Regions from separate parts of the Homo sapiens genome. Here region 1 is linked to region 2. A link means that fine-mapping ties the variant in region 2 to the expression of a gene that starts in the linked region. Tissue or cell type: whole blood. Region 2 holds a variant in brackets; the other region holds the start of a gene. All regions are shown on one strand. Distances are from middle to middle.

What was found. PIP is the estimated chance that this variant, and not a neighbour inherited with it, causes the effect.
Region 1: AEBP1 starts here. The variant in region 2 is fine-mapped to the expression of AEBP1 in whole blood (TOPMed, PIP above 0.99).

The regions. Positions count from the first base shown.
Region 1 is chr7:44,100,744-44,106,800 of GRCh38, forward strand. AEBP1 (AE binding protein 1) reads left to right here and starts at 3,602. Exons shown (of 21, transcript NM_001129.5): 1 at 3,602-4,175; 2 at 5,803-6,057. The coding sequence starts at 3,923. RefSeq lists enhancers at 55-556, 557-1,056.
Region 2 is chr7:43,726,909-43,732,965 of GRCh38, forward strand. It overlaps COA1 (cytochrome c oxidase assembly factor 1), which reads right to left and starts at 2,615. Exons shown (of 6, transcript NM_018224.4): 1 at 2,521-2,615. RefSeq lists enhancers at 1,901-2,630, 2,631-3,359, 2,726-2,925. The variant C/G (reference allele first, on the strand shown) is at 2,934.

The sequences.
Region 1 (6,057 bases), 370 kb after region 2:
GAACTCTGCTCACTCAGCAGCCAGGCCTGAGAAGCACCGGACTGTGGAAAATCACATATGTTTTTCAAGTTGTTGAAAACCAAGGAAATTGTTCTGCCAGTTGTGAGGGTGGCTAGACACTGTCTGGGAGACCTCAGGTCCCATGGCTCTGGGAGCCATCCCATCTTGTGGGCCCAAACAGGCTAACCCCACTGGTAATATCCAGGCACTTGGGCGGCAGAGAAGGGGGAGTTTCTAGGAGCCTCCCCCAAGAGGGAAGAACAAAAAGGAAGGAGCCTAGCCTGGTCCTTTCCCCTTTGGTCCCAGGAGGCAGATCCAGGACTCAAGGGGAGATATGGAGGGGCTGGCATCTGTGATCCCAGTAGCCTGCTGGCCAGATCCCAGGCCTCCCAGACCTTCTATTTATCCCCCTCCCCCAGATACACATGCTGGTGCTGGACAGCTGGGCTGTGGCGGAAGTTTACATACAAAGGGTTTGCTGGGCCATCTCGGTACACACAGCTTCACTTCCTTCTGAGGCACAACCCGTGTCTGAGCTGCTGCCATGGGGGTCCTGGGGGCCACAGAGGCCATGGGGCAGGTTGGGAGGGTCTGCTCCCAGCCTCCCAGACCCTGCCACTCCTGCCTGTCCCCAGGCCCTGATGACCTCTTATCCTTCTGTGCCCTGCAGATCCCCACAGTCAGAACTCAGGCACACTGGGCCTGCTGGCAGGTGAGTTTCCACCTCTGACCAGGTTGAGGCACCAGGCAGCTCTGGAGGCTCAGGAGCTATAGCTTGGGTCCCAGTGGGAGGAGGCTGGCCTGTCCCCCTCCTCAGCTGGCACTAACAGGCCCCTGACCCAACCTCAACTTCTCTCTTGGGGTCTCAGCCCTCATGGCAGGGTTGATGGCCTCAGAGCTACATAGGACCTACTCACTGGGCCATGCTCCCTGTCTCCCTGTTCCCTGCAGGTCAGTTTCGCCAGCTTCCACCCTTGGACAGTTCTGGCTCTCTCAACAACTCTCCTTCCCATTCCAGCAGCAGCAAGGGACAGGGGGCACCCTCCCCAGCGCAGGCCCCACCCTCCCCAGCCCAGTCCTGCCGCAGTGGCTGTCCCTTGGGGTAGGGAAATGCCAAAGCAGTCCCTGCCACATCCATGTGGGAAGCTGAAAGTGGATCACCAGAGTGTCTACCAGCCCCCCACTGTAGCCCAGGAGAACACTTGGATGCAGGTGCAGACCCTGCTAAGTGGCAGGGGTAAGGGACCCTGAAAGCCACTAGGTGCTCTTGGCTACAAGCCTCCCATCCCCCTGACTGGCTTCACTCTGGCAGCAGAGGGGAGAAGTCCCCTCACCGGCCCCGTGGCAGAGCCTGGGCACAGGGCTAAAGGACTTTTTGGTGCAGGTCTTCAAGTGGAGTGGGAGTCCCAGCCCCACCACCCAAAGGGAGGCACATCAGCCTGGCATGGAGGGCAGCTGCCTCCCATCCACCTGCCCACACCCTTGGTGTCAGAGGGCCCCCAACATCATGGCCCTCCTTGTGGCCCAGCTCTCCATGAGAGCTTTTGCACATGTTTTTGTTGGTGACTCGCTGTGACTGAAGAAAAGCCTCCTTCTGTTCCTTTTTTGTTTTCTTATGGCTTCTATTTTCCCTGGCAGAGGATGTTGGACCCAAATCCAATCCATGTGTGAGTTGTTCCCAGGGAAGTGACGTGCCACGCTGCTTCACCCCAGCCTTGGGCCGCCGGGCTTGACATGCTCAACTGGGGCAACGGAGCAAATTCCCAGAACAAGTTTTGAGAAAGATGATTCAGAGCTTTGCAGAGGATGAGGAAAGGGGAGAGCTTGCGGATCCTTGCTGCCACCAGGACTGGCCTGGGGGCACGTGGCAGGCAGAGGCAGGCTCAGGTGCACAGGGAGCCTGGGTGTTGGGGCTCAGGGTCTGCTCTGAGCGCCCCAGTGGGCACAGCTCAGGTTGATCTCTGAGGGCAAATGATGAGAGCTAAAAGGCAGCAGTGTGAGTGCCAAGAATGTGTGCTAGGCACAGCACATGCATGATCCTGTATGAACGACAAGGAGAACAGGGACACAGGTGGACGGCACTGAGGCTACCTGCCGAGATGTGGTGCCTGGGAGGTAGAGCCAGAACCTGACACAGTCCCACTGCTTTTTCAAGGAGATGCAGTGAGAAAGCAAAGGCAGGGTCTTGGCAGGACCAGGTGTGAGAGGAGGCAAGGCCTCCTTGTGGTCCTGCTCCCAGGGGGTGGCATGTATCCCAGGCCCAGCAGCCTCCACTGTGGCCTCCCCGGCTGCTGCCTGCTCCAACTCACTCGGGGCTGCTCTGGGGACCCAGGTGCTTCCTGACCCACTTTTCCTCTTTCCTTTTGACCCCAGGTCCAAACTCTGCCCTGTCAATCATCCCAGGGGCTCCTAGGCTTCCCTACCTGACTACTTCACTGGGGCCAAACCCCGCAGACAATCGTGGCTTAGGGCTGTCTGCCTCTGCACTTGGCCCATGGACTACCTGTGAGCTTTCTCTTGTGTCCTCATTCCTTTAAGGGGGAATGTCCTCGGAGCTCTGTCCTTAGCTCCCCATTCCTCCAGTATGAGACAGGGACTAGGCTTGAGTCACGGGGGACTGTGCTGTGTCACGCCCTGCCATACTAATGGGACCACTCTGCCTGTTGATGGCCGTTGTAGGGCAGCCAACATTTGCCCTGGAGAAGCCTTATGGCAAACACCAGGCACCAAGGTGCACATCCCTGATGGATCCTGGGATCAGTTGACACTCAATCCACCTGCCTTCTGGGTCCTCTGGGCCCTCTGGGTCCATGTGGCAGCTGGAGGTATGGTAGACACTTTTTAAAAAATGAGTTCTGGTAAGAAGAAGGTGATAAATGGCTATTTGTCCACGTTGGGACCCGGAGGGGAGGGATGGCATGCCCTTACATGGGACTCCTACCCCCAGCGGGGCAGCTGGCCACTCTGAGGGCAGTTTTGCACCTGCCTCCTGGCTGGAAAGTGAGTTCCCACTGTGCTGTCCCTCCCTGGGGCCCAGCACGGGGCCCGGCCCCACACCGACCTGAAGAGGTTGGTAGGATGACTGAATGAATTGACGCTGGGATGCAGCAGGGCCCATGGGCAGAGGCTCCAGAGCCTGGGAAGGATGGGGTGGCCTTTCTGTGGCCCTCCGAATTGAGAGAGGTCTCAGAGGCCTGACACCACGGCTTTCCGTCCAGGGTTCCTGGTCACCCGCGGAGGGCTCAGAGCCCCGGTGGACTCGGGGTCCCGCCTTAAGGGGGGTGCCTAGGGCAGAAGGAGGAGGGATGTCGGCCCCCTCAGACCCGCACCCCAGGCCCTCCCCACCACCTTTCCTTCCCTCAGGCCCTCTGTCTTCCCAGTCGCCCCGCCCCCTGCCCCTCTGTCCTAGGCGCAAGTCTCCGGGCTTGGGACGCTCGCCGCCAGCGCCCGCCCGCCTGCCCCGCCCCTAGCCCCCCGCCCCCCGCCCCCCGCCCCCCCGCAGCCCCTCCGTCCACTCTCGGCTCCTCCTTCTCTTCCTCCTCCTCCTCCCCGGGGGTGGGGAGCCGGCTCCGGAAGCCCCGGCGCCCCCGCCCCGGGCCCCGCCAGCGCTTTGGAGACGGCTATCCGCGCGGGAGTGCGCCACGCGGGGCCGGAGCGCCTATTAGCCGCCAGGACCTCGGAGCGCCCCGACCACCCCTGAGCCCCTCTGGCTTCGGAGCCCCCCAGCACCCCTTCCCGGGTCCCCTCGCCCACCCTAATCCACTCTCCCTCCCTTTCCCGGATTCCCTCGCTCACCCCATCCTCTCTCCCGCCCCTTCCTGGATTCCCTCACCCGTCTCGATCCCCTCTCCGCCCTTTCCCAGAGACCCAGAGCCCCTGACCCCCCGCGCCCTCCCCGGAGCCCCCCGCGCGTGCCGCGGCCATGGCGGCCGTGCGCGGGGCGCCCCTGCTCAGCTGCCTCCTGGCGTTGCTGGCCCTGTGCCCTGGAGGGCGCCCGCAGACGGTGCTGACCGACGACGAGATCGAGGAGTTCCTCGAGGGCTTCCTGTCAGAGCTAGAACCTGAGCCCCGGGAGGACGACGTGGAGGCCCCGCCGCCTCCCGAGCCCACCCCGCGGGTCCGAAAAGCCCAGGCGGGGGGCAAGCCAGGGAAGCGGCCAGGGACGGCCGCAGAAGGTAAGAGCCCAGGGCAGGGCGGGGGTGTGGGGGGCTGGCATCTCAGGTGGGAACAGGGGGATTCGGTAGGGTCTGGCCACTCCCCAGTCTGCTAGGGGAGGAATGGCTGGCTTACTAATGCGCACGCGAGCCCAGATGCCTGGAGGGACCCTGTGCTAGGCCGAGGTCAGCGCTGGCGTGGAGGCACATCCAGCACCCGGGCGGCAGGGCCGCTTTTGGGGGCCGGTGGCTCTAGGGTTGGTGCTGTGGTTGTACGGGTCGCTTATCCCCATTCCTCCAGTACGCGACAGGTACTAGGCTTGAGCCACAGGGGACTGTGCTGTGTCACCCCCTGCCATACTAATGGGACCACTCTCCCTGTTGGTGGCACAGCTTCACGTCGTCCCTCCCTCCTGCCTTTGCCCTCCTACTCCAGGAGGTCTCACGTAGGTGAGAGAGTTTCAGGTGGTGGTGAGCACAGGGCTTCAGGTGGTGGTGAGCAATGGGTGGTCCTACATTAGTACAGGAAATTAGATGAGGTGATGCATCACTGAAGCATTTAACCCACGGCCTCTTGCATAATCAGTTGTCAGTAAATCTTAGCTGTTTTCATCGTGGCCCTCTGGAAGGTGGCAGAGGGTCTTGTGATCCCTGTCTCCCAGGAGATTCCAAGGCACCATCCAACATTCCTGATGTCAGCAGCCCCTCCCCTGCCACCCCAGCTCTAGATCTTTCCTGGCTGCTTCCCACACCCTGGGCTGCCTGTGCCCCTCCTGCCTCTGGCTCTCCTTCCAGGCTTGCTCTCCTGGCTCTGGGGCACCGCTCTAGCAGCCCTGCGTCCCCTGGCTGTCTGCATTTGGTAGCTTTCCTGTGTTTCTGCCAAACTTCCCTCATGCTCCCCACCTCTCATCAGGTTCTCAACAGCACTTGCAGCTCCTGCTTAGGGTCCTGGGAGGATTCCCATGGGGAATCCTCACAACCAGTCCCTGCTCCCTCTCCCAGACTCTGAAATGAGTGTGCAGCCACAAGCTCCCTACCTGTCTTTTCTGTCCTCTGTGTGATCCCTGAACCCCCCAGGACTCCCTATCCTTCCAATCAATTCCAAACCCCTTACTTCTCGAAAGGAGACCACTTCCTCTTCTTTGGGCTTCAATACTCAACCAAGTGTCCCTTTTCTTTGAAGCTTTTCTTGCCCCGTAGGAGACCAGGGGAAGGTCTTGGGCCCATGTCCCTTCCTTTGTATGGCAGTTGGCAGGGATGACCAGATGCTCCTCCAGGCCTGGATGGCTCAGTCACCTCTCTGCCCCTTCTGTGCCCAGAACAGAATAGTGGAGGAGTGGATAGTAAGGAACCCCTATTGAGGTTTTGGCAGGTGGGGGGATGAGGGCCTCCCCCTGGGAACTGGGAACCCTACGCTCAGTCTTTAGAGAGGTTGAGATTGGTGGTCACAGCCCCAGACTTGCAGACAGAAAATCTGGGTCCGGATCCCAGTTTGCCACTTGGGCAAATGACTTAACCTCTCAGTTTGCTGATCCGCACTGGGAACTGACAAGAGTCCCTGTGCCCAGGTTCTGGGCATCTAGAGAGGGGCCTCATGGGGGCACAGAGCTGGCTCTGTTCATTTGACACGAGTCTGCATCTTGGACAGTGCCTCCGGAAAAGACCAAAGACAAAGGGAAGAAAGGCAAGAAAGACAAAGGCCCCAAGGTGCCCAAGGAGTCCTTGGAGGGGTCCCCCAGGCCGCCCAAGAAGGGGAAGGAGAAGCCACCCAAGGCCACCAAGAAGCCCAAGGAGAAGCCACCTAAGGCCACCAAGAAGCCCAAGGAGAAGCCACCCAAGGCCACCAAGAAGCCCAAAGAGAAGCCACCCAAGGCCACCAAGAAGCCCCCGTCAGGGAAGAGGC
Region 2 (6,057 bases):
TGGGCAATAAGCACTTGAAAAGATGCTCAACATCATTAGCCATCAGGGAAATACGATTTGAAACCATAATATTTTCAAAAAGTTAGGAGATTTTTAATGGTCGCAACACAAAGAAAAGATGAACGTTTCAGGTGGTGGACATACTAATTACCTGATTTGATCACTACACATTGTATACATTTATCAAAATATCACTCTGTAGTCCCTAAATATGTACAATTATTACATGTCAACGAAAAAGAATGAAAACACAATGACACACACTTCACACCCACTGGAATGGCTAGAATCAGAAAGACAGATAATGACAAGTGTTGGCAAGGAGTGAGAAATCAAAACCCTAATACACTACTGGTGCGAATGTTAAAAAGATGCACACTGATGCTTTGGAAAACAGTCTGACCATTTCTTAAAATGTTAAACAGAGCTACCATATGACCCAGCCATTTCACTCCTAGGCACATACGCAAGAGAAATGAAAACATGATGTCCACACAAAAACTTGTAGGTGAATGTTCACAGCAGCATTACACATAATGGCCAAAAGGTGGAAACAATCCAAACGTCCACTAACTAATGGAAAATAAATCGTGGTAATACCCATAAAAGATTAACCAGCAATAAAAAAAAGTACTGACACATGCTATTAAATACAACACAGATGAACATGAATGTTAAGTAAAAGAAGCCAGTTGAAAAAGACCACATGCTGTATGATTTCACTCACATGAATAATCCAGAATAGTCAAATATACAGTCAGTCAATTCATAGTTGCTTAGGGCTTAGAATGGGGAGTGGGGATGGGGAAGTCAGGTGAGCCTGCTGAATAAGTACAGGGTTTCCTTTTGGAGTGATGAAAATGTTCAATTGTTCCAATATGGCTCTCACAAACTGAATGCAGCATATTAAACATGAACAAAAGAATACAAGAATAACTTATTGGAGTCTGTCTGAAATAGAAAATTAAACCAACTAATGAAGGTGAAGAAGATTACAGCATATTTTATGATGATGGTTGTACAACTTTGTGAATGTACTAATGTACTAATTACTTTTAGGTTTTCTTTCTTTTTTTTTTTTTTTGAGATGGAGTCTAGCTCTCTCGCCCAGGCTGGAGTGCAGTGGCGCAATCTCGGCTCACTGCAAGCTCCACCTCCCGGGTTCACACCATCCTCCTGCCTCAGCCTCCCAAGTAGCTGGGACTACAGGCTCCCGCCACCACGCCCGGCTAATTTTTTGTATTTTTAGTGGAGACGGGGTTTCACCGTGTTAGCCAGGACGGTCTTGATCTCCTGACCTCGTGATCCACCCGCCTCGGCCTCCCAAAGTGCTGGGATTACAGGCGTGAGGCACCGCTACGTTTTAAATGGTGAACTCTACGGTAGGTGAACTATGTGTCAGGAAGCTGTTTTATTTTTTTAAAGGACTGAAGACTTTTGTTTTGTGTTTTGTTTTGTTTTCATTTTATCCCGTTTTTAAAACAGTGCCTAGCAATATTATGAATTCAATCGATTTTGGCTAAATGCTAGAACAAAAATTAAAACTTGAGTAAACCATATAAAACTTTGCCATATCTAAAGTTATTAAATTACCGTAGACTGGCATGGTGGGAGCATAATATGAGTGTACCTGCAGGTGTGTTTTCCATGAAAGTAGCAAAGACTGAAAAACTCAGCAGAATCAAGACCCTGTAGGCCCTTGAAGTTAGGCTAAGAAATGTGTATTATCCTGAAAGCAACGGGAAGGCCAGGAAGATTCTGAGGACAGAAATAACACAATCTGATATGCGTTTTAAACGTGCAGGTGTAAGCGGAGAGTTGCTACTTCTATCCAAACGTGAGCCACCTCAGAAATAAAGCAATAGCCCTCCGGGGAGAATGGGGAGGAATCAGGGGAAGACCGGAGAAACAGGTTATCAAATTATCAGAATCTCCATAGATTTTTTTAAATTACACAGCATCCACCCCCAAACACACATACAGACTGATAGGCACTGATATATACATAAATACATCCAATGTCCCCTACACAGAAAATCACTTTTGCAGTCAGCCCCTGTTGGGAGGGTTTTTCTGTTATTCAAGTGTGGTGGGGACAAAAAGTATTATAACCACTAAACCAGGTAATTCTTTCCTACAATAATTTGGGCAGCGTACTCCTCAGGGTGTTGAAATTTAGCACTACCAACAAAAGTGCCCAGTCCCAACTCTTCGAGAGGACCCTAACTCTTTACAGTGTGCTGTTGGGGATGGTCAGCAAAAACTGCAGGACAAGGTCAAGGTTAGCTCGACACAGCCTCCTAACTCCGAGCGGACGGAGCCACTGAAGGTTACCAGGTGCCAAAGAAGCTGCGCAGGGAGGCCGCGACCCGGCGCCGGCGCGAACCTCCGCGATGTGACCCGTGAGGGAACTCTCCAAGAAGCAGCGCACCCCGCGCGCAAAGGCGGCCCCCCGAATTGCAGGAACAAACGCTTCTTGCTGGGGGGAAGACGGAGACTCTTATACCGCGGGAGACTAACCTGTGAGCAACAGAAGCACCACGCTACAAAGAGCATGACGAGTTCTTCCAGGCTTGGGAAAGCACGGGTAAATGCCCGCGGTCCTGCGCGCCAGCGGGGAGCAGTAGAGACTTCCGGCGTCGGCTGCTCGCAGGGCTAGAGCGTCGAACCGGGACAACCGGAGGCTTCAGCTCACCTCGGATTGTAAATGCTAACACGGGTCCTCCGGCCGGCTGATCCAGAACTTAGGTCGCCGGGACGTGTGGCTTCTGCTTCTCAGACGCTCGGACTCGCGCCGGGAAGGGTTTCGCCTCCCCTGGTCCCCGCTTTTTTTTTTTTTTTCTGCGTCCGGTTATTGCAAATGCATTCAGTCCAGTAGCACTAGCCCAGGAAATATAAGCCACCGGCTCACGTTGCTCCTCACAGGTATGCGG[C/G]GCTTCCGCTGGCCTCCAAGGACACGAAGCCCCGGGCCGTCTGGCCCCCCACTCTAGCACTGAAATTCCTGCCGCCCCGTTCAGCTGACAAATTTGGCAGCACTAAATTTTATTTTATTCGACAAATTAAGTACCCAGTTAACACCAGGGAGTAACGGGGTAAGAAAATTTCAGAAGGCTGGTGGATAATAATAGCATTTACCTCATAAATTTGTTATGAGGATGTGAAGCACTTAGAGTAGTGTCTGGCAGTTTGTAGGCGCTCAGTAACTGTTAGCTGTTATTATTTTTATATTGATTATTCCATAGTCACCACTATTATCACCTTAATGTCAAGCTTGAAATCCAGTATCTTTCCTCTGCGAAGCCATCACTCCAAGACTAATTAACTTTAGACTGGGGCATTCTTCTTTAAACTCTTGCTCACACATCCCTATCAGAAAAAATATATATATATTTACATGTGTCATGTATGGCATTAATATATTATGCATGCTATAAAACTCACAAGACATCAAACTTTTGATGAGGTAAAAACAATTTTTAAACTTTTTTAAAAACTTCTAACAGAAGTTCTTTTCTTCCTCCACAACAATTAGGTTGCCAAACATACATTCTATCACTCTGGAATCCACTAGCTAAATGAGCACATTATCAAAGCAACCTACCGCTGAATTCTGACTTCCCAGAATGTTTCTTTTCCAAAGAATTAATAGAAACTAATCAGATTGTGAAGTGCTCGGCCATAAGGACTATTTAAATGGTTCTTAGAGAAAAAGAAGAAATAAAATAGGCATCCACTGAGTAATATTCATTGATGCAACATTGATTATTGACTTATTACATTTTCAAAGAGATTGAGGTTATAATACCTTACACCAAGCTTAATATTTCAAAGAATAAATCAACTAATAAAAAGCTTATGAGGTTTGGTATATGTGCATTTCATACAACGTTCATGAAAATGAACCCGAGATCAATTAGCTCCCGTTCTGTACCAGAAAGAGAAATATGTTTACTTTGTAAGTAATAAAACATTAAATAGGCTTTTCTGACCATTTGCTTGAAAACTCAGAACTTAACATTTCTATCACTGGACTTAAATCTGCTAAAGTTTTCGTCTAAATTTTACATTAAAAACAAAACTCTATAGTGAATAATGTTACCTATCCAATATTCATTTTCCTCTAACTCCTTTGTACCAAAATCCTTATTTTATTCAGATAGCTGCCCTGTTCCCAGAATCAAAATGATACTGATTAAACCAGTCATCACACAGAATTTTTTTGTCGTCTAAATTTTACATTAAAAACAAAACTCTATAGTGAATAATGTTACCTATCCAATATTCATTTTCCTCTAACTCCTTTGTACCAAAATCCTTATTTTATTCAGATAGCTGCCCTGTTCCCAGAATCAAAATGATACTGATTAAACCAGTCTTCACACAGAATTTTTTTGGAAATAGTTGCTAATCAAGGAACGAGTATATGACCCAGGTTGGCGCAATCTGACTGAAGGAAAGGACCTCTATTTCATGCTCAGGAGAAAGTTTCTGATATACTGTCCTCTTGACGTCGAAACATCTATCCCACACTGTCATTAGTAGCCATCTTGCCCATCACAAGGAATAAAACTGATGGACCAATGCTGAGGACAACTGAACAAGTTATAAAACAATGTCCTTGGTGACATCATTCCAAACCTGGAGCTCACCCTGTATCTGAATGCCTTGTAGGAATGTCTAATAAGTTTCCTTATTGTTTTTGTTTTCTGTTTTTCTGAGACTGAGTCTCACTCTGTCGCCCAGGCAGGAATGCAGTGGCATGATCTCAGCTCACTGCAACCTCTGCCTCCCGGGTTCAAGCAATTCTCCTGCTTCAGCCTCCCAAGTAGCTGTAACTACAGGCATGCACTGCCACGCCTGGCTAATTTTTGTATTTTTAGTAGAGAAGGGGTTTCACCATGTTGGCCAGGCTTCTCTTGAACTCCTGACCTCAGTGATCCACCCACCTTGGCCTCCCAGAGTGCTGGGATCCTTACTGTTTTCTGATAGAGATGCCATAAAGATTAAATGGGTTAAAATAGTGCTGGTCATATTGTAAGTATTTTAAGTGCTTAATAAATTTTAGTTATTATTAACTCACCTTAAGTCAGGGATTCTGTTTCTTATAGCCAAAATTACCCATCAAAATACACATTCTACCTCTCTTTTTCTATATATTTAAAGAAAGGGTCTGTTTTGATACTTTTAAACTAAGGAGCCAGGGAAGGGGTAGGAGGTGAAGAGAGGAGGGGCTGACTATAATGCTGTATGAGGGCTACTGTTAAGTGGTTAAATGGCTGCTTTGAGATTCACTCAAGAGCAGCAGGATCCTATAACTATCAAATCTGAATGAGGTTACTACACATCGTAGTTGTATGTATACATGAAAGTATCATTTCCTGCATATTAATATTGTGATCCACTGCCTTACTAAGTTGCTTTATTGTTTGGAGTTCATTCTGGTAGAATTTCTAAGATTGCAATCTTATCATTGAAATAGTTTTACCTACTTCTTTCCAAGTTTTATACCTCTACTTTCTCATATCTAATTGTTTTGGCTAGTATCTCCAGTAAAATATTTAATAATAATAATGACAGTAGACTTTTATGTCTTATTCCTATCTTTAATGAGATATCTTTAGAATTTTCCCATTAAGCATGATGCTGGTTTTAAGGACTGAAGTAGACATCTTTTATCATGTTAAGGAACTATCCACCTATTGAGAGAAAGAAGAAAATTTTGGCATAAGAGCTTTGAGAAAACAAAGCATTGAGCGTGCCATAATGTCCTGTCATAAAAATAAGTAAAAGTTAGACAGTATTTACCTCAAAGACACTGAGAAAATTAACATTAGCTAGGTTGGTATGAATGTCCTTTCTTGCTTATCTTACTACCAGCATGAAATTCAGTCCTGCCTAGTTTGTTTACAAGAAATTCACCTGTGATATCCTGATTTTTAACCCTGAAAAAGTTATTTATCTCTTACAATATGTCCTGTTTAATGTAAAGTTAATGCTTGCTCTACATGTTTTTTGTTTTTTGCTTTTGTGTTTGCTTTTACATGTACTCCAAGCACA